Regions from separate parts of the Homo sapiens genome. Here region 1 is linked to region 2. Evidence: fine-mapped expression QTL. A gene starts in region 2. The other region holds a variant in brackets. All regions are shown on one strand. Distances are between the middles of the regions. Region 1 overlaps HK1 (hexokinase 1). Region 2 holds the start of HK1 (hexokinase 1).

Region 1 (8,235 bases), 37 kb before region 2:
TGGCTCATTTCACTAAGCAAAATGTTTTTAAGGTTCATCATGTTATAGTGCATATGAGACTTTATCCCTTTTAATGGCTGTTACACTCTATAGATATAACACATTTTATTTATTCATTTGTTACTGACAGACATTTGGTTTGTTTCTACCTTTTGGCTATTATGAATAACACTACTATGAATATTTGTGCCCAAGTTTTTGTGTGGACACGTTTTCATTTATCTTGGGTATATATACCTAGGACAAGAATCGCTGTCAAATAGTAACCCATGTTTAACTTTTCAAGGAATTACCACCATTCTTCAAAGCAGCTGCACCATTTTACATTCCTACCAGTAATGCATGAAGTTTTCAGTTCTCCATGTCTTCATCAACACTTATTACAGTCTGACTTCTTTATCAATTTGCATTTCTCTGATGACTAATGGTGTTGAGTACATTTCTATGTGCTTATTGGCCACTTGGAGAAATGTCTATTCAGATCCTTTGCTCATTTTAAACACTTGGCTTATCTTTTCCTTTTTTTTTTTTTTTTTTTTTTGAGATGGAGTTTCGCTCTGTTGCCCAGCTTGGAGGGCAGTGGCTCAATCTCGACTCACTGCAACCTCTGCTTCCCGGGTTCAAGCAATTCTCCTGCCTCAGCCTCCTCAGTAGCTAGGATTATAGGCGTGCACCACCACGCCTGGCTAATTTTTGTATTTTTAGTAGAGACGGGGTTTCACTATGTTGGCCAGGCTGGTCTCGAACTCCTGACCTTGTGATCCGCCTGCGTCGGCCTCCCAAAGTGTTGGGATCACAGGCGTGAGCCACCGCACCCGGCCTCATTTGTCTTTTATGTGTTGAGTTGTAAAAGTTCTTTTTATGTTCTAGATACAAATCCTTTATCAGACATATGACTGGCAAATATTTTCTCCCATTCAGTGGATTGTCTTTTCTTTTTTTTATGGTATCCTTTGATGCAGTAACATTTTATGTTTGTTGTTGTTGTGTTTGAGACAGGGTCTTGCTCTGTTGCCCAGGCTGGAGTACAATGGTGCAATCATGGCTCACTGCACCCTTGACCTCCTGGACTCAAGAAATCCTCCAGCCTCAGCCTCCCAAGTAGCTGGAACTACAGGCATACGACCACACCTGGCTAATTTTTAATTTTTTTTAGAGACAAGGTCTCACTATGTTGCCCAGGCTGTCTCAAATGCCTTCGCTCAAGTGATCCTCTTGCTTGGCCTCCCAAAGTGCTGGGATTACAGGCATGAGCCACCAAGCATGGCCAAGTTTTAAATTTTGATGAAGTCCAGTTTTACGTTTTTTCTTTTATTGTTTGTGCTTTTGGAGTTGTAGCTAAGACTCTATTGCCAAATCCAAGGTCACAAAGATTCAAACCTGTATTTCGTTCTAAGAGTTTTATTAGTTTTAGCTCCCACATTTAGGTATTTGATCCATTTCAAGTTAATTTTATATATGGTATGAGGTGTAGGTCAAACTTCATTCTTTTGCATGTGGATATCCAGTGTCCCAGCACCATTTGCTGAAAAGACTATTCTTTCCCTCATTGAATAGTCCTAGCATTCTTGTCAAAAGTCAATTGACCGTAATGTATGCATTTATTTTTTTTTTCGAGACAAAGTCTCACTCTGTTACCCAGGCTGGAATGCTACCCAGGCTGGAATGCAGTGGCATGATCTCGGCTCACTGCAACCTCCACCTCCCGGGTTCAGGCAATTCTCATGCCTCAGCCTCCCAAGTAGCTAGGATTACAGGCGTGTGCCACCACAACTGGCTAATTTTTTTGTATTTTTAGTAGAGACGGGGTTTCACCATGTTGGCCACGCTGGTCTCAAACTCCTGACCTCAGGTGATCCACCAGCCTCGGCCTCCCAAAGTGCTAGGATTACAGGCATGAGCCACCACACTCAGCCTGTATGCATTTATTTCTGAACTCTCTATTCTGTTCCATTAGTCTGCATGTCTACCTTCATGCCAGTACCACATGTCTTGATTACTGTTGCTTTGCTGAAAATTTTGAAATTGGCAGTGAAATTCCTTCAGCTTTGTTCTTCTTTTTCATGATTGCTTTGGTTATTCTGGGTCCCTTGAGCTTTTGATTTTCAACACAAAATAAGGTTTGCTTTCTGTTTTTAACAATAAAGCTGACTTATCTTTGTATTTGATTCTACCAAGCTATAAGCCCTGACACACTGCTATATTTCTGGAACTTACAATGGTGTTTGGAATGTAGGTAAAAACTGAGCAAATACTTGTGGAATTAATGAAGGTATAAAGAAATAAACAACAAACCAAGGAATTCTCACATTGAATGTCACTGTTCCTATCTTTTTTTTTTTTTTTTTTTTTTTTGAGAGGGAGTCTTCCTCCATTGCCCAGGCTGGAGTGCAATGGCGTGATCTTGGCTCATTGCAACCTCTGCCTCCCAGGTTCAAGTGATTCTCCTGCCTCAGCCTCCCGAGTACCTAGGATTACAGGTGTCCACCACCATGCTTGGCTAATTTTTGTATTTTGTAGTAGAGATGGGTTTTCACCATGTTGGTCAGGCTGGTCTCAAACTCCTGACCACAGGTGATCCACCTGCCTTGGCCTCCCAAAGTGCTAGGATTACAGGCATGAGCCACTGCGCCCAGCCTGTTCCTATCTTCGTTCTCAAGTTCCTTGAGGGAAAGACCACAACTTGGGATTCTCTGTCCTTGGCACCCAGGACAGCTCAGCAAATGCTCATTAGCTGCCTGGTCACAGGGACTGGTGGTCCATTCATTCATTCAAGGCACCTGATATGGTTAGGCTTTGTGTCCCCACCCAAATCTCATCTTGAGTTGTAACCCCCACAATGCCCACATATCAAGAAAGAGACCAGGTGGAGGTAACTGAATCATGGAGGTGGTTCCCCCCATGCTGTTCTCGTGATAGTGAGTGGGTTCTCATGAGACCTTATGGTTTTATAAGGAGCTCTTCCCCCTTCGCTCAGCACTTCTCCTTCCTGCCGCTTTGTGAGGAAGATGCCTTTTCTCCTTCCACCATGATTGTAAGTTTCCTGAGGCCTCCCCAGCCATGCTGAACTGTGAGTCAACTAAACTTCTTTCCTTTATAAATTACCCAGTCTTAGGCAGTTCTTTTTAACAGTATGAAAACGGACTAATACAGCACCCCTGCTTGCTGTTTATTAAGCACAAAGCAGTTACGCCATCATGTGAGACACACACAGAGGAAAAACCAGAGTATGTTTTTCCTTTTCTCTACTCACCACAACACAGAACACACCTGTGACCCTGGATGCATGTGGGTTTTTCCCCACACACCAAGCAAGTAATTCTGCAGTGAATTCTCCAGTGAACACCAGCTCCATGCTCTCTAATTCAATTCAATTATTTCACTAGCTACCTGGAGATAGCATCATATCCCACAGGTCGAGGGCTCGTTCACACGAGGCTGCCCTCCCTCCAACTTCAGACACCAGTCACAAGCACAGGTTGTGGCCTGTGCTTCTGGCTGATCACTATAAATCGGGGTTCCTACAACCCCCTCCTTGGGTTGCATTAGTTTGCTACGGCAGCTCACAGACCCAGAAAAAACACTTCACTTACATTTACATATTTACTATAAAGGATATTACAATAAATACAGATGAAGAACTGGATGGAAGAGATACACAGGGAGGGGCATGGGAGAAAGGGCAGGAGTTTCCATGCCCCCTCCAGATGTGCCACCCAGGAACCTCCATGTGTTCAGCTAGACAGAAGCTACCAGAACTCAGTCATTCTAGGTTTTCTTCTTTTTGCTTTTTTTTTTTTTT[TTTG/G]GTTTTGTTTGTTTGTTCTTTGAGTCAGGGTCACACTCTGTCACCCAGGCTGGAGTGCAGTGCAGTTGCATGATCACAGCTTACTGCAGCCTCAACCTCCAGAGCCCAAGCGATCCTCCCACCTCAACCTCCCGAGTAGCTGGAACTACCGGCACGTGCCACCACATCTGGCTAACTTTTTTTTGTATTTTGTGTAGTGACAGGGTTTTACCATGTTGCCCAAGCTAGTCTCAAACTCTTAGGCTCAAGCGATCCACCCACCTGGGCCTCCCAAAATGCTGGGATTACAGGCGTGAGCCATCATACCTGGCCTGTTTTAGGTTTTTGTGGAAGCACCATTACACAGTTGCGATTGATTAAATCATCGACCATTGGTTTATTCGCTCTATTTTCAGGCTCTCTCCCTCCCTGGAGGCGGCATGGGGGTTGGGGCTGACAGCAACCCTCTGATCACATGGTTGGTTCCCCCTGGCAACCAGCCCCCCATCCTGAGGCTATCCAGGGTCCCACCAAGGAACAAAAGAGACTCTCCTATCACCCAAGAAATTCCAAGGGATTTAGGAGCTCTGAGTCAGGACCAGGATCAAAGATTCTCCTAGCACCTGTATTGCTCAAGAAATTACAAGGGTTTTAGAAGCTAAATGCTAGAGACTAGGGGCAGAGACCAACATGTATATTTCTTATTATTTCACATATTGGTTGGTTGTTTTTTTAATAACAGTTTTATTGAGATATAATAATATAGCATACAATTTTTACCCATTTTAAAGTGAAAAATTCAGTGGTTTTCAGCATATTTACAGAGTTGTGCAACCATCACCACTATCTAATTTTAGAAAATTTTCATCATCCCAAAAGAAATTCCATACCCATTAACAACCATTCACCATTTCCTCCCAACCTCCCTATCTCCCAGCAACCACTAATGTACTTTCTGCTCTACAGATGCCCCTATTCCAGACATTTCATATAAGTGGAATTGTATAATATTAGGTCCTTTGTGTCTGGCTTCTTTCACCCGGCATAAGGTTTTCAAGGCTCATCCATGCTGTAGCGTGGATCAGTACCTCATTCCTTTTTATGAACCGATTATATTCCATTATATGTATATATCACATGAAGCCACTGGTTTTAAATTATTTGTGGTCCAAAGGAAAGAGAGAGAACAAGGGAGAATGCTGGGAAGCAGGTGTCATAGATTTGGTGGAAATTCTGACCCCGACTTTGTGGCATTGTTCAAATCAATATAGAATTTTCTTTGGGCTCCCATTGGAGTCCTAACTCCAACAGTACTTTACACCACCACTAGGTTAAAAAATTGAATTCAGCCGGGCGCAGTGGCTCATGCTTGTAATCCCAGAACTTTGGGAGGCTGAGGCGGGTGGATCACTTGAGGTCAGGAGTTCGAGACCAGCCTGGCCAACATGGAGAAACCCTGTCTCTACTAAAAATACAAAAATTAGCTGGGTGTAGTGGTAGGTGCCTGTAATCCCAGCTACTCAGGAGGCTGAGGCAGGAGAATCGCTTGAACCCAGGAGGCGGAGGTTGTAGTGAGCCGAGATCATGCCACTGCACTCCAGCCTGGGCAACAGAGCAAGACTCTGTCTCAAAAAAAAAAAAAAATTGAAATAACTGAAAAAATTGAATTCAGTATGAAGTAGCTCCTCGCAGGTGAGTCACTAGAATATCAGAAACATTTTATTTGACCATCCATCAGCTAACATTCACTGAGTCTTTCTGTACCAATCACTAAGTGCTTATACGTATCCTTTTATTTTCAATCTTCACAACCCTATGAAGTCAGTACTGTCAGGATGCCCATTCTACAGATGAGCAAGTAAAGGTAAAGAGGGGTTAGATAACTTGCCCAAACGCACAACCAGTAAGTGGCAGAGTCAGCATTTGAATCCGAAGCCATAATGTATAACCATGAAAACTGCCTCCTGGACAGAACTCAGGGACAAGGATCCCCAAGGAAAGTGGGGGCCAGAGAGAGACTTCAGCACATCAGGAATGGCTACACTTCTTTTCTGGGGCTCTTCAACTTCCATGATTCCTTATAGCTTTGGGTTTTTTTGTTTTGTTTTTTTTGTTTTTGTTTTTGTTTTTGAGACGGAGTCTCACTCTTGTTGCCCAGGCTGGACGGCAATGGCGCGATCTCGGCTCACTGCAACCTCCGCCTCCGGGGTTCAAGCGATTCTCTTGCCTCAGCCTCCCCAGTAGCTGGGATTACAGCCACCCACCACCACGCCCAGCTCATTTTTTGTATTTTTAGTAGAGACGAGGTTTCACCACCTTGGCCAGGTTGGTCTCAAACTCCTGACCTCAGATGATCCGACTGCCCTGGCCTCCCAAAGTGCTGGGATTATAGGCGTGAGCCACCGTGCCTGGCCTAGCTTTGGTTTTATTTATTTATTTATTTATTTATTTATTTATTTAATTTTGAGACGGAGTCTCGCTCTGTCGCCCAGGCTGGAGTGCAGTGGCGTGATCTTGGCTCACTGCAAGCTCCACCTCCCAGGTTCACATCATTCTCCTGCCTCAGCCTCCCAAGTAGCTGGGACTACAGGAGCCCGCCACCACGCCCAGCTAATTTTTTTTTTTTTTTTTTTAGTAGAGACGGGGTTTCACTGTGTTAGCCAGGATGGTCTCGATCTCCTGACCTCGTGATCCGCCTGCCTTGGCCTCCCAAAGTGCTGGGATTACAGGCGTGAGCCACGGCGCCCGGCCAGCTTTGGTTTTATTTTGCTTCATTCTCTAATGAAGACAGTGAAAGCTCAGTCTGATAAACAACTATAAACCACTTGTGCATAGGGGGAAAAGGGGCACAAAAGCAAATACTACACTGAGATGAAATGATCGGTACTTTTTATTTTAATATTTTACTTAATTAATTTGCTGTTTTAATGTTCACCTAAACATTTATTTATTTCATGTTTTTGTTTGTTTGTTTTTTTGAGATGGAGTCTCACACTGTTGCCCGGGCTGGAGTGCAATGGCGCAATCTTGGTTCACTGCAACCTCCAACTCCCGGGTTCAAGCAATTCTCCTGCCTCAGCCTCCCGAGTAGCTGGGTCTACAGGCATGCACCACCACGCCCAACTAATTTTTGTATTTTTTAGTAGAGACGGAGTTTCACCATTTTGGCCAGGATGGTCTCGATCTCTTGACCTTGTGATCCGCCCACCTCGGCCTCCCAAAGTGCTGGTCCTATACGCTGCCGGGCAAAAGACACTGAGGAATGATGTCTGTTAAGGACAACAAGATAACTGATAAACTTTCCTGGATGTCCAGCATCTCTTTAGATAACTACCCTCCCATTTTTCACCTATGAGGTTGGAAGTGGGGCTGAATCCCCACTCCAGCTCCAGGGGTACCAATGCGTAATCCAGGCATGGGATCCAGGGGCATCCCAAGTCACCCATCTTGTCCATCGTGATTGGTTCAGGATGGGCACATAACCCAAGTAAGCCAATCACAGCCCTCTCCAAGACCATCACAGGTCCATGGGGAGCAAGGCCTGCTCTTTGCACAGAGATCGCTGGCTATAAGGGGAGGGGTCAGCCTAGGGCTGCAGGGGCCGTCCCTGCCACTGTAAGAGGAGAGATGGCCTATGAATGAAGCCAACACACAGGAAAGGAGCTGACTGAACTAGTAAGAGACAGATGAATCCCTAGATACAGAAGTCAACTCACAGCGAGACTTCCCAGTTATAGGAAACTAGAATTCTCTTTTTTTCTTAAACAAATTTGAGTCAGATTTCCTTCAGCTACAACCAGAAGGTTTCCAGGTTAGTTCAATATTCTTTGTCAGGAAATGAATCCCCCAAATACCCACTTGCCCTCCATAACAAAAGGGACCTATCAGTCCCTTTTACCTCGGGTTGGCTCCCTGATTCAGAGCTGTCGTGTCCAGTCACCCCCTTGCAGAGGTACTGGAGCTGTAGCCTGTGGTCTCACCCACATTTTATGTGGCTAGCTCAGGGGTTGGGGGTGAGACAGCCTGCCTTGGCTTGCCCCTTTTCTCTGCCTCCTTCCCCTGTAACATCACAGAGATGCCAGCGAATCCTGAAAAACTCTGCATCCTTCCTGCAGGGGCTCGGCTTACACATTCAGGCCTGCTGGGTGCGGTCCTTGGACTGGCTCCATTGGTTAGGAAAGACTTTCCCAAGGAATTCTTCCAAAGCCAGTTATTATATCATAAGACTGATGAGGATGACGATGACGCACCATAACTCACGGTGGTTTGCAGTTTCCAAAGACTCTCATTTGATCCTGATGATAGCCTGGTGAGGCAGGTGGGGCAGGGATTACCATGGCCATTTTACCCATGAGGAAATGGAGGCTCAGAAGTTAAGTGGCTTCTCCAAGGTCACACAGGTTGGGAGTGGCAAACCCAGAGACCGATTCAGTGTTCTAGATTTTTATTTC
Region 2 (13,009 bases):
TTTATGGAGTTGAATTATTGATGTGCCTCAAGGCAATGAGGAAAGAAATGACACCCTTTTCATGATCACCTACTAGTGGAAATCACTTAGCGTTATGGGGATCTCGCCCAGAGAAAATCCACTGGCATTTGCTCACCATTCTGACAAGCCTGGAGGAAAGGAAGTCTAATCTTTCTTTAGAAGCCAAGTTCTGACCTTCCTGGACCCATCTTCCCTTTCTAAACAAACAGAGCACTATGCAATCCTTCACCCTGCTCCAAGCTCCTAATGGCTAAACCGAGTGGAAGAAGCTGGCGAGATGAGATGCGTGTTTAAAGTTACTTAGAGGTCAAAGAACCCAGCCTCTAGCTGCAGAACTGGCAGATGTCTGGGATTCTGATGAATGGAATCCTTCACAAGCACACATATGCCTCCCTTTCCTCCTACAGGCACTAGAAGAGTGAAAGGAATATATGTGTTTTGTGCTTAGCTCAGCCTAATGCCAGTACACCCTCTTCAACAGCACCCATTAACCAATTTATGCAGATGCCGTCTGGATAATGGGGTTCCAAGCTGGGAAGTCAGACACCTGAACTGTTTCAACCCAGGATATATTTTTATGGAGTTGAATTATTGATGTGCCTCATAGGCAATGAAGAAAGAAATGACACCATTTTCATGATCACGTTTGGATTCTAAGCAATCCCAAAAACTTCCCCGGCATGGTCCCCAGCTTCCCTTCTCCTACCTCTGGCTCTGAGGGCAAGAAGATAGATGAGAGTTACTGAGGGATGCCAGGTCTGTCTCCAGAGCCCCGGAGGCTGCCTACAGCTGGAGGGCTGAATCATCATGGCTGCCCACGCTGGGGGGGAACCATCCTCAGCAGGTCCCTGCTGGGAGGCAGGCAGAGTCCAGCCCCACAGGAAGAACAGGGGGTCCCGCACCTTCACCTAGCCTTTCCTATGGTGAGTGGTACGTGGAAAGAGCTGGTCTCTAAGAAATCCTGGGCCCCAGAAGAGCAGATGTGGTCCCCAGCATCTGCACACTTGGGCAAAACTGAGTAGGTCACTGGAGCAAGTACCCACTATGTCACTGTCCTTAGAAGGCCCAGGCTGGAGTGCGGTGGCGCAATCATAGCCAGGACCACACCCACAGATGGCTGTGCCACACAGTCCACTATGCAAAATGAGTGGACCCCCTGGCAGGAATCCACGTACTCCCCTATAGAAAGCAGCATAGGAAGTCCGTGGTGAAATGCAAGCAAACATCTTGTTTTTAAGAATCTCCTTGACAAATAATATCTGGTGGAAACCTTGGCCTTAAGACCTTCCTCCAGCAAGGTTCTCGGGGAAGAGAAGGGAAGAACATCAGAATCCCAAACTCGGAGTGAGGAGGGATGGAAGGGTCAACTGAATCACACACTCAGGTACCTACGGGGGCCTAGGAGATAGACTGTGCATCCATAGATGTGAATTGAGCCACCCACAGGAGTGGAGAGCTCTGGGCCCACCCTAGACACTGTATGTCTGAGAAAACATGTCCCACTGAATGGAGTCCAAACCTCAGCCCAGCTCAGCTGCTGGAGGCCACCGGCAGCCAACAGCCAGCAGTCTGTTGTGGGTGGTGGTGGGTGTGGACACTGGAGGTTTACAAGGTCACCCAGGCACCCCCCAGCCCAGCAGCCCACTGTCTTGAGCTATAAAGGACACCACGTGCAGGAGGACAGTGAACTCTTGGCTTCAGGAGGCCTGTTCTGGGCACTTCTTGCCATGCCGGGAGAACTGTCTCCCTGGTCCAATGGGAAGAACATCAGTGATGCACAACACCACTAGAGAAAACTCATGAAATGCACACACCCGCACGCACAGCTCCCAGGTCAGTGGCCAGAGGGAAGCTCCAGGGTGCTCCATAGGAGCAAGTGTTTCGAGTGCCACGGTTTGACAACCCCAGAGTGCTTAAAGCCATAAAGAGCAATGGCAGATGGCATTCCCAAGCCTATCTCCTACCTACCTCACTCCCGGTCCCCACCCACCATGGGATCCAAGATCACGGCAGGGTCCCCAGCGGCTTTGTCTCTCAGTACCCACTCCCTCCTGGAAGCTGACCTCCAGGAGGACCCTGGTGAAGTTCCTGGGTGGAGGCACTGGGAGACCTGGATCCCCCTGACTGGCTCTGCCTCTAACTCACTGGGTGACCTTGATAAGGTCGCTGCCCTCAGTAGGCCTGTTTCCTATGGTGCCAGATGAGGGAGTCATCTTAGATGCACAGGAAGAGGATGGAACACCCTATGGCTTGCCGGGCAGAAAATCAAGGCCTGTCACTCCTGCCTTTCACCTGTAGAACTCCACCTGTCTGAACGCCAAAGTCAAGATGACTTTGCCAGTCCATCCCAGCTAACCCCAGCAATAACGTCACCACGTTCAGGGTGGGTGGGCCTGGAGCCTGTACCAGACCTGGCACTGATAAAACGGGCGTCTTTCCCTACAGCTTAGGCTGTTTCTTTAAAATATGGTAGCACAGCTGGCAGAAGAGACAAATACACCTTTAAGACCTGCCAGCGGACAGTATTTTACACTAAGATGTCAAAGGCAACAACACCTCAGGACAGGAGGATGCATGCGTCCAAGTGCTAGAACAAGCATGCCACAGGCGTCCACCCAACTCAAATGACCAGTCGCTTATTTGAGCTCCTGTGCTGGCTAGAAATTACAGCTTAAGAGGAATAAAAAATTCCATTCAGACGTGCCGCTCCAGACACGAGGCCTATGAGCAAAGTTTCCGGTGGCCTCGCCGCCCCTCCCCGTTCCGGGAAGCCGGGCGGGTCACCTCGTCCTCAGATTAACGAGCAGCTCAAACAACTGGGAGAGCCCGGCGACAGCTTCTCCGGGGCACCCGACACCCTCCGCCAGGAACCCCAAATATGGGAGGCCTGGCCTCCAGCCAGCACCCCCGCCTGCTGCTCGATCACCTCCCCAGCATCTCCATGATCACACCTCCTCCCACGGCGCTCGGACCCTCCCGAACAGGCCCTGCGGAAGGGCCCACCGGCCACCTCCCCGCACAGCCCGGGGGCCTATCTGACATCCAGGGCCCGTTTCAAGGACACTGCAGCAGGCAGCCCGGTCTCGGGGGTCTTCCGCCCGATTGCCCCCCTCCCAAAAACGCACACACACAGAGACACTGACAATGCCGGTAGAATCGAAGGCGAAGGCTTTCCTTGCGCCCTGCAGTCCAACTCGATGCTGGCCCGGAGAAGGCCGGGCGCCGGAGGATGGAGGCAGCGGAGGCGGCGAGCGGATGCCGGAACGCAAGGCTGCGGCCAGGACCAGCGGCGGCGCGGGCGGGGGCTCACCTTTTTGACCTGGTCATCCTTCAGCTCCGTGAAGTAATAGGCCAGGAGCTGCGCGGCGATCATGCTGGCGGTCGGGGTCGCGGGGCGGCAGGCGTGGGGACGGTCGGTCCTCCGCAGCCCTGGCGAGCCGTGGTCCTCCGGCGGCTGCTCGGCGGCTCCTCCTCCTCCTCCTCCCCCGGCTCCTCCCCCTCGGCCCGGGGCGCGGCGACAGCTCGCGCGCTCCCGGTCTCCGCGCTCCCGTCCCCTGGAGGGTGACAGCCGCCAGCCGACCCACCTCCTCCACGCCCATTGGTTGCGGCGCGCCTCTGCAACGCCCGGCGGTGGCGTCCCGGCCGGGGAGCGGGGACGCGGCGGCCGCTCCCTCCTGCGCCGGAAAGGGGGCGGGCGACGCAGCGAAATCCCCCCCGACCCCGCATCATCCTGCACGTCCCCCACGTAGGGAGCCGATGCGGGCCTTCACGCGTGGCGGCGCCGTGCCCGGGTGGGCCGTGCCAGGCGGGGAGGTGCGAGGCGCAGGCAGGAGGCACCGCCCGGCTCCGCCGGGACGAGAAGCCCCTAGGGCTAGTCTAGGGACTGGCAGCCCCGGGGGCACGAAGGCGGTCCCATTCCTCGGAAATGAGGGCTCGCCCCTAGGAGTCCGGTGGACGCCGAGGTGCCGGAGGGGACTTGCAGAAGTGGGCGTGGAAAGCGGGCGGAAGCGGGAGCCGGGGACGCTACGCAGTCCTCGCACCCGGGTCCCGCGCCTTCCTCACCCAGGCCGAACGCACCGGCCTACCTGGGTCTTCAGCGGCAGTGCATCACCTCTCCCCGGCGTGCCCCGCCTAATCTCCAGCTGGCAGATTTGTATTGCTGAACCCAAAGCGACACCCCAGAGCACCCGCCCCCGAGTCACCAGCTCCGGTGGCTCTCCCTCAGGGCGCACTCCCTCTGGGCGGGACTTGGGCCACAGGTCGTGGCCTGTCCCCATCCTCTGGGCCTCCTCTTGCTCTTGGGCATCCAGGCCCACTGGGACTTGGGGCACGGTTCAGCGCCCCTTCCCAGGTGCCGTGTTTTCTACTTTCCCAGAGGAAGTTACGTAGGATGGGAGGACTCCCTAGAGGTGCTACCAGGACAGCCACTTTAGGATTCTTAGATTAATTATTTCTGTGTTCCGGAAGCCTCCAGGAGCTTTAGTGCCTTACAAAATGACATGTAATGAGCTCAAATATACAAACAAGTTGTTGCTATTCTGGTTAGACAGGTAAGGAAATTGAAGCTCAGTGAGGCCTCAGTCTTGCTGGACTTTATACAGCCAGGAAGTTGTAGATCTAGGATCACAGCTTGGATCTGTGAGTCTTTGAAGCAGGTGCTCACCTCTAGGGTTTGCTGTGGTCCCAGTTGTATAGAGCCCCTCTGCCTAAATAGGTCACTTTCCTGCAACCAAGTCTGCACCATATGGTGCCCTGAGATCCAACCCCCAACCTCTACCCTAGCTCTTGACTTTAGGAGTCCCTAGCCCTTGACCAGGCCTAGCAAAGGTACAGTCAAATCAGAGGGAGGGATGACGTAGGTTCAGGGGCCTGACAGCCACCATCACCCACAGAAAAGGAGGAGCTTAGATGCAGTCCTGAGGCCCCAGCTTCCTGTCCAGGTCACAGTCCCCACCCCCTGCCTTAGGGCCTATGCAGAGGGGCATCTTGAATCACCTCTGAGACTGTGTCTTCATCCATAAGATGAAGACACTAATGCCCACCTCACCTCCCCTTGATTGTTGTGTAATACTGTACGCAAAATACGTGCACATAATACACACTTAAGGAATGGCAGGTATCATAGAACTGACTGAAAAGTTAATGCGGTTAAAGCTTCAGGGACTCTCACTTTCATTCCTACCCTTCTAGGCCCTGGGAGGGCCTAGCAGTGTGATATTTGTATATTTATATTTGAATTATTTTCCATAGAGAGTGCCAATTTATTTAATTTTCAAGCCCAACAAAACCTGGATTTGCCCTGGATCATAATTATAAACCAGGAAGAGAGAGATTTTCTGGTACACATCAAACATTTGGAACTACCTACATGGCCGTTAAGCAAAATGGAGTGAATGAGAACAAGATGGTTGTTCTCAACTGCCATTTCATTTGAGTTCTGCAGATCTGCCAAGCTCACAGGGCTGGAAACTCCTTGAGGATGGAGGACTATGTTTTGCTAATTGCTCTGTCTCCTACACAAGCGCAGGGCCTGGCACTTGGCAGGCTGAATAAGCCTAATGCATAATCAAAAACATGGCCCTTAACCCAGCCACCAGCCGGTGCCATCACCCATGCCCAACCCGTTGTTACAACTCCTATCTGAGCTGGAGCCAGGGAGAAGCTGACGCTTGGAAGAGCCAGGTTACCCTGAAATGTCCTGTTTGCAGGCAGGAAAGCTGCCTCTGCTTTGTCTTCCCTGGCCTTTGAGAGGGAAACTGCTTCTCAAGGTGACTCATTCCTCCCCACTCCATGAATGCAACCAGGCCCCAAGGCCTGTCAATATTTCCTGAGAAATGTCTCTAGGCCTGACCTATTGCCACCTCCCAACTCCCAGTCCATCTCCCTGTGCCAGAAATATTACAAGAGTCTTCTAACTGTCCTCCTCGGCTCCTGGCCTCATGCCATCCAAGTCATTCTGAGCACCAGGTCACATTAATCCTGCTAAAATGCAGCATAATCATGTCATGACCCTTCCCTAAATCCCTTCATGGCCCTCTCCTTCCTGAGAGAGCCAATTTAAACATCTCTGCCTGGTTTCCGAGGCCTTCTGTAATCGACTCCACTCTTTCCCACTTATCTCTTCCTCCACTCTGGCCGCAACAAGGCCACTTCCCACCATCCTCTGCCCCCACCATGTCCACTCCATTTGTTCGCCGCTCATATTCCCTTCCTTGCCCTGCCTTCTCCACTCACCTCTGCCTGACCAAGCATCCCCTCTCATCTAAGGCCCAGCTTGCCAACCTTCCCTGGACCACAGCTACTCACCCCAATCTCCCAGGCCTCAGCACCTCGACAGGGCAAACTCAGGCTGTGCTCACAGTCCATCTGGATATACACCCAGACTCCTCTTTACAGGGCAGGAACCTGGGATGCCACAGGTGGGCCATCTTGCCCAGTGTCAGGTTGTGGTAGAGTTTTGAGCCAGGACTCCAGCCTAGTCCTGATGCCCAGCCAGTGCTCTGTCCATCCCACCCCCAACCCCTCATGCAACCTGGGCCTCAGATAAGTAACACTGAGTCATGACTGCCTAACTGATATGGGTGACTGTCTTCTAGGGGGCTGGTCCTATCTGCCCCAATCAGACAGCTTCCTGAGGCCAGGGCCCATGCTGCACTGCTGTGTCCCCTCTCTGTTGTTCCAGTGCTGACTTCACTAATTTCCTTAATAATTTGCCTCTTTTTGCTCTTGCATAGCTCTTAGATCCCTGCTAAGGCTCCTTGACAGTTACTCCCTGGATCCTCAGGAAGACCCCAACCCACAGGGAGTCCTTAGTTCCCTCCCTCTCCAGATGGCCCTCCACTTCCCTTCAAGTCCCCTGAACTCTCTCTACTCATTTACTGTGGTACCTCCTACACAAGTTGGGGTTGGAGTGACCAGTGCCAGGCTGCCACCCCAGGAAACGCACCTGCTTATAAGACAATAAAGGCTGCCTTCTAAGTTGGAATGTCTGTACCAATTCCCATCTGACCCATGGCACTAGGAATGTTACTTCAGGAGTGATCTCCAACAGATAACAGCTGTACCTCCCGCACCTGGGAGCACACTCTGAATAGCAATGTTTACATAACGTTGACAGTTTGCAGAGCAATTTCTCATTTATTGCTTCATTTCTCCTGATAACAGCCTGGTGAGGTTAGAAGGGCAAATATCATTATCTGCACTTAATCAGTCAATGAGGATGTGAAGGTTATAGAGCTTGGGTGTTTTGGTTTTTTTCTTAAATTGAAATGAGGTCTTGCCATGTTGCCCAGGCTGGTCTCGAACTCCTGGACTCAAGGGATCCTCTTGCCTTGACCTCTAAAACTGCTGGAATTGGCCAGGCGCAGTGGCTCACGCCTGTAATCCCAGCACTTTGGGAGGCTGAGGTGGGAGGATCACGTGGTCAGGAGTTCGAGACCAGCCTGGCCAACATAGTGAAACCCTGTCTCTACTAAAAATACAAAAATTAGCTGGGCATAGTGGCAAGAGCCTGTAGTCCCAGCTACTTGGGAGGCTTAGGCAAGAGAATCGCTTGAACCTGGGAGGTGGAGGTTGTGGTGAGCCAAGATTGTGCCACTGCACTCCAGCCTGGGCGACAGAGTGAGACAGTCTCAGAAAAAAAGAAAGAAAAGAAAAGAGAGAAGAGAAGAGAAAAGAAAAGGAAAGAAGAAAAAGAAAAAAAGAAAAAAATGCTGGGATTATAGACGTGAGCCATTGTGCCCAGCCCTATAGAGTTTGTTAAGGTCTCAAAGAGAGCGAAAAAACGAAAATTAAGACCAGTGCCTAAACCATTGGAGCATCTTAGAACCCTGACACTATGGGACTGTCATGCACAGCCTGTCCTAAAGAGATGCCTCGGAAGAGATCCCAACCTAGCATTTCTATTAGTTGGATCAGTGGTTTCCAACCTGGCTGCACCAAAGCCACCTAGGGAGCTTCTACAAATGCTGATGTCCAAGCCCCACCCAGAGACTGGACTAATGTGAATGCCGTCCAAGTTTCACTTTCTAACAGTTCCCCAGGTGAAACTCAGGTGCTGCCAGGAATGAGGACCACTGATTTAGACCCTAGCTTTCCATGGGAACATCTGGAAGAAATGTCTAAAATGAATTGACCCATAATCCTTTTAGCAGCTTCTGTTGGATGCTGAAGGCAGTTGCTCCAGGGTCTTAGTGGCTCTGCAGATCCTGAGCTCAGTGGGGTGAAGGTTACTGTGACTCCATCAGCGTTGCAGACAGTTCTGCTTCCTGCGGGAGAAGGCTGCTGAGGAGACACTGGCCACCCAGCCCCTGGAGAGGCTGGAGTTGTAAAATCACATTCTCAGTCTGCCTCCTTTTCTCTTTCATTTGCCCAAAGTCCTGACCTCCAATATTATAACAGGGTCAGTAAATCAGCAACCACCAAGCTAAAACTGTGGCCTGTAACATTTTATTTGGCCCACCTGATGTTTTATAAATTTGTGCCTGCCCTTAAAAAAAAATTAAGAAATTTCACTTTAAAATCTAGATTTCAGGCCGGTGCCTCACGCCTGTAATCCCAGCACTTTGGGAGGCTGAGGCAGACGGATCATCTGGTCGGGAGTTCGAGACCAGACTGACCAACATGGAGAAACCCCATCTCTACTAAAAATACAAAATTAGCCAGGCATGGTGGCACATGCCTGTAATCCCAGCTACTCAGCATGGTGGTGTACGCCTGTAATCCCAGCTACTTGGGAGGCTGAGGCAGGAGAATCGCTTGAACCCGGGAGGCAGAGGTTGTGGTGAGCCGAGATTGCGCCATTGCCCTCCAGTCTGGGCCACAAAAGCGAAATTCCGTCTCAAAAAATATGTATAGTAATAAAATAAATAAAATAAAATCTAGATTTCAGGCACCTAAAGGTGACACCACACAGGACCCACTTGATCCTGTGGCAACGTGGTCATCATGGCACTAGCTCCTTATCTTAGCCAGCGCCTTCCCCGCATATGCTGGAGCTGAGCAGCCACCGCCCCCTTTAGACAGGGTAGGGGAGCTCCAGCCAGCCCAGGCCCCACCCAGCCCACTGCTTGACACTGCTGACTGGCGCCTGTAAGGCATTGACATTTTCAGCTCCTAATAATGGGAATTTACCGGCAAAAAGCCTCCCATTATTAGGGCTGGGATGAGGATGAGGCAAGAGCCGTGCCTAGGATGCAAGACTTAAGTCTTGTACCTGAATCTTACTCCATCAGTGCCTCTCTTGCTCCATCCAAGCCCCAGTCCTCTCAGGTATCATAAAGGCCCCTGCCAGCCTCCTCCTTACTCAACCCTGACCTGTTCATCTCCACTCAGAGAGGCCCTGACCTTTCAGGACACATTTCCCACCTCCCAAGGAGGTGAAGGAAACCAACATAATTCACCCCAAAATACGGCTCCCTTGTGTAAAGAGTATTTTGAATGAAAGGCCCTTAAAGATCAACAGACACTGGAAGAGACTGCCCCACCTCCAAAGGGGAAAGACCAAAAGACCAGAAGGATGCCCCTGGGGGAACAATTTTTTCCCTTCCCCTTCCCGTTATCTGATTCTCTATTGCAGAAAAGAAGACTGAAGAATGTCACCACCCCTAGAGGGATAAAATGCCTGTCTGTCTCTCGGGCTTATTCAGTTTCCAAAGAGAGCCATTTACAAGTTAATCTCAATTCTCTGATCCCTTCTTTCTCCTGAGAAATCATGCAGAATTACAGAATTAGCATATTCCCCATCTCCTTACCAGCTTCAGAAAAAAAAAAAAGGGCTATATGGCCAGGCACGGTGGCTCACGCCTGTAATCCCAGCACTTTGGGAGGCCGAGGCGGGTGGATCACTTGAGGTCAGGAGTTCCAGACCAGGCTGGCCAACATGGTGAAACTCCATCTCTCTCCTAAAACCACGAACATTAGCTGGGCGTGGTGGTGCAAGCCTGTAATCCCAGCTACTCAGGAGGCTTAGACAGGAGAATCACTTGAACCTGGGAGGCAGAGATTTCAGTGAGCCAAGCTCATGCCACTGCCCTCCAGCCTGGGCGACAGAGTGAGCCTCTGTCTCAGAAATAAAAGGCTATATAAGCTTCTGTACTCCATTGAAGGGTTAGGGTAATCACTGTGTTTTCTTCTAGGCATATTAGAAAATGTGTATGCCTTTTCTCTTAATCGTCTTTTGTCTGTTGACTTTTCAGCAAATTCACGGAGGGGGAAGCGGAAGTTTTCCTTCCACCCTGCAGTGGCTTCTACTCCCCTTTGAAGGTAAAAGTTCCTCAGAAGAGCCAAGGAAATCCGAGTCCCACCCTGTCCCTTTCTAGACATCCCATCCTCATTAAATTGCCTCTGAGCCTGACAAAAGTCATAGGCGTAAAGAACTGTAGCTTGGGCCGAGCGCGGTGGCTCACGCCTATAATCCCAGCACTTTGGGAGGCCGAGGCAGGCGGATCACGAGGTCAGGAGTTCTAGACCAGCCTGGCCAATATGATGAAATCCCATCTCTACTAAAAACACAAAAATTAGCTGCACGTGGTGGCATGCACCTATAGTCCCAGCTACTCGGGAGGCTGAGGCAGGAGAATTGCTTGAACCCAGGAGGTGGAGGTTGCAGTGAGCCAAGACTGTGCCACTACACTCCAGCCTGGGCAACAGAGGAAGACTCCGTCTCAGAAAAAAAAAGAAAGAATTGTATCCTGGAGGAGGAAGGGTTAACCAGATTGTTGAGGCCTTCCCAGGCTTCAGACTAGCTCCTTATCTCAGCCAGCTCTCCAAAGGAAATGGTTTCCCCAAATGAAATCGTTATCTTTTGGACCAGAGCAATCTCAAATCACCTTGCCAGTTACCCTGAGTTTCCTGGGATAGTTCTCCCAGCACCCACACACAACGACCTTCACAGGGCCAGGAAAAAGTCCTCAATCCTTTCCTTCGAGTTAGCATTGTAAACCACAAATAAAATTCTAACCCACCATCCTCCTCATCATCTGATTCAACCTCTCCTCTCAGCCAGGGCATTCAAGAGTTAACCTGAAAAACTAGCTCAGGCCATGATGGAATGGGGGTGTCAGACATACTTCATCATACCTTCATCCCTTTTGGAATTCAGTCCCATCCGACCAGCATTAACATCAACAGACTGATAGAATAGAACAGACTCTCTAAGTCTAATAAGAAACATTTACAATCTTTTCTCTGAAGCCTGCTATCTGGAGGCTTCATCTGTATAAAACCTTGGTCTCCACAACCCCTTATCACTTTTTTTTTTTTTTGAGACGGAGTCTCACTCTGTTGCCCAGGCTGAAGTGCAGTGGTGCAGTCTCGGCTCACTGCAACCTCCGCCTCCCAGGTTCAAGTGATTCTCCTGCCTCAGCCCCCTGAGTAGCTGGGATTACAGGTGCCTGCCACTATGCCCAGCTAAATTTTGTATTTTTAGTAGAGACAGGGTTTCACCATTTTGGCCAGGCTGGTCTCGAACTCCTGACCTCAGGTGATCCGCCTGCCACAGCCTCCCAAAGTGCTGAGATTACAGGCATGAGCCACCAGGCCCAGCCAACCAATGTACCTCTTACATGTATTGACTGATATTTTATTGTCTTCCTGAAATGAATAAACTTGTAGTTTGACTGCTTGGGGCACATGTTCTCAGGATCTCCTGAGGGCTGTGTCATGGGCTACTGGCTGCTCATATTTGGCTCAGAATAATCTCTTCAAATATTTTACAGACTGACTCTTTATCAACAGCACCAAGATATACTGGAAAATGCTCACACAGAGTTCATGTCAACACCTAGGCAGGGTTCCTAGGCTCTAAGATGACATGGGTCAGCAAGTTAAACATATAAACAAAAATTAGATTCTGAGTTTTTATATGGCTTAGAAAGGATTTTTTTTTTTTTTTTTTTTTTGAGACAAAGTCTGGCTCTGTCACCCAGGTTGCAGTTCAGTGGCACGATCTCGGCTCACTGCAACCTCTGCCTGATGGGTTCAGGCGATTCTCATGCCTCAGCCTCCCAAGCAGCTGGGATTAGAGGCATCCACCACCACACCCGGCTAATTTTTGTGTTTTTAATAGAGAGGGAGTTTTGCCATGTTGGCCAGCCTGGTCTCGAACTCCTGACCTCAAGTGATCTGCCTGCCTTGGCCTCCCAAAGTACTGGGATTACAGGTGTGAGCCACCATGCCTGGCCAGATTTTTTTTTTTTTTTTTTTAGATGGAGTTTCACTCCGTCACCCAGGCTGGAGTTCAGTGGTACAATCTCTTTTTTTTTTTTTTATGAGATGGAGTTTCGCTCTTGTTGCCTAGGCTGGAGTGCAGTAGCGTGATCCCGGCTCACTGTGACCTCCGCCTCCCGGGTTCAAGCAATTCTCCTGCCTCAGCCTCCCAAGTAGCTGGGATTACAGGCATGCGCCACAACACCCGGCTAATTTTTTTTGTATTTTTAGTAGAGATGGGGTGTCACCATGTTGGTCAGGCTAGTCTCAAACTCCTGACCTCAGGTGATCTGCCTGCCTCGGCCTCCCAAAGTGCTAGGATTACAGGAGTGAGCCACCTCGCCTGGCCGAGTGGTGCAATCTGAACTCACTGCAACTTCCGCCTCCCGGGTTCAGGTGATTCTCCTGCCTCAGCCTCCCGAGGAGCTGGGACTACAGGTGCACACCACCACGCCCAGCTAATTTTTTGTATTTTTAGTAGAGATGGGGTTTCACCGTGTCAGCCAGGATGGTCTCAATTTCCTGACCTCATGATCCGCCCACCTCAGCCTCCCAAAGCGCTGGGATTACAGGCATGAGCCACCTCGCGGCTTTTTTTTTTTTTTTTTTTTTTTTTTTAATGAGACAAAGTCATGCCAGGCGCGGTGGCTCACACCTGTAATCCCAGCACTTTAGGAGGCCGAGGCAGGCGGATCACAAGGTCAGGAGATCGAGACCATCCTGGCTAGCACAGTGAAACCCCATCTCCACTAAAAATACAAAAAATTAGCCGGGCGTGGTG

What was found.
Region 1: its variant is fine-mapped to the expression of HK1 in neutrophils (CEDAR, PIP 0.92).

What each region holds. Positions count from the first base shown.
Region 1 is chr10:69,349,189-69,357,423 of GRCh38, reverse strand. The region is part of intron 2 of HK1 (hexokinase 1); the gene reads right to left. Among named protein-coding and RNA genes, the nearest start is that of HK1, 34 kb to the right of the region's middle. The variant TTTG/G (reference allele first, on the strand shown) is at 3,803.
Region 2 is chr10:69,309,333-69,322,341 of GRCh38, reverse strand. It overlaps HK1 (hexokinase 1), which reads right to left and starts at 3,495. Exons shown (of 18, transcript NM_000188.3): 1 at 3,332-3,495. The coding sequence starts at 3,394. RefSeq lists enhancers at 410-1,326, 2,912-2,961, 4,252-4,481, 9,014-9,515 and a silencer at 3,262-3,941.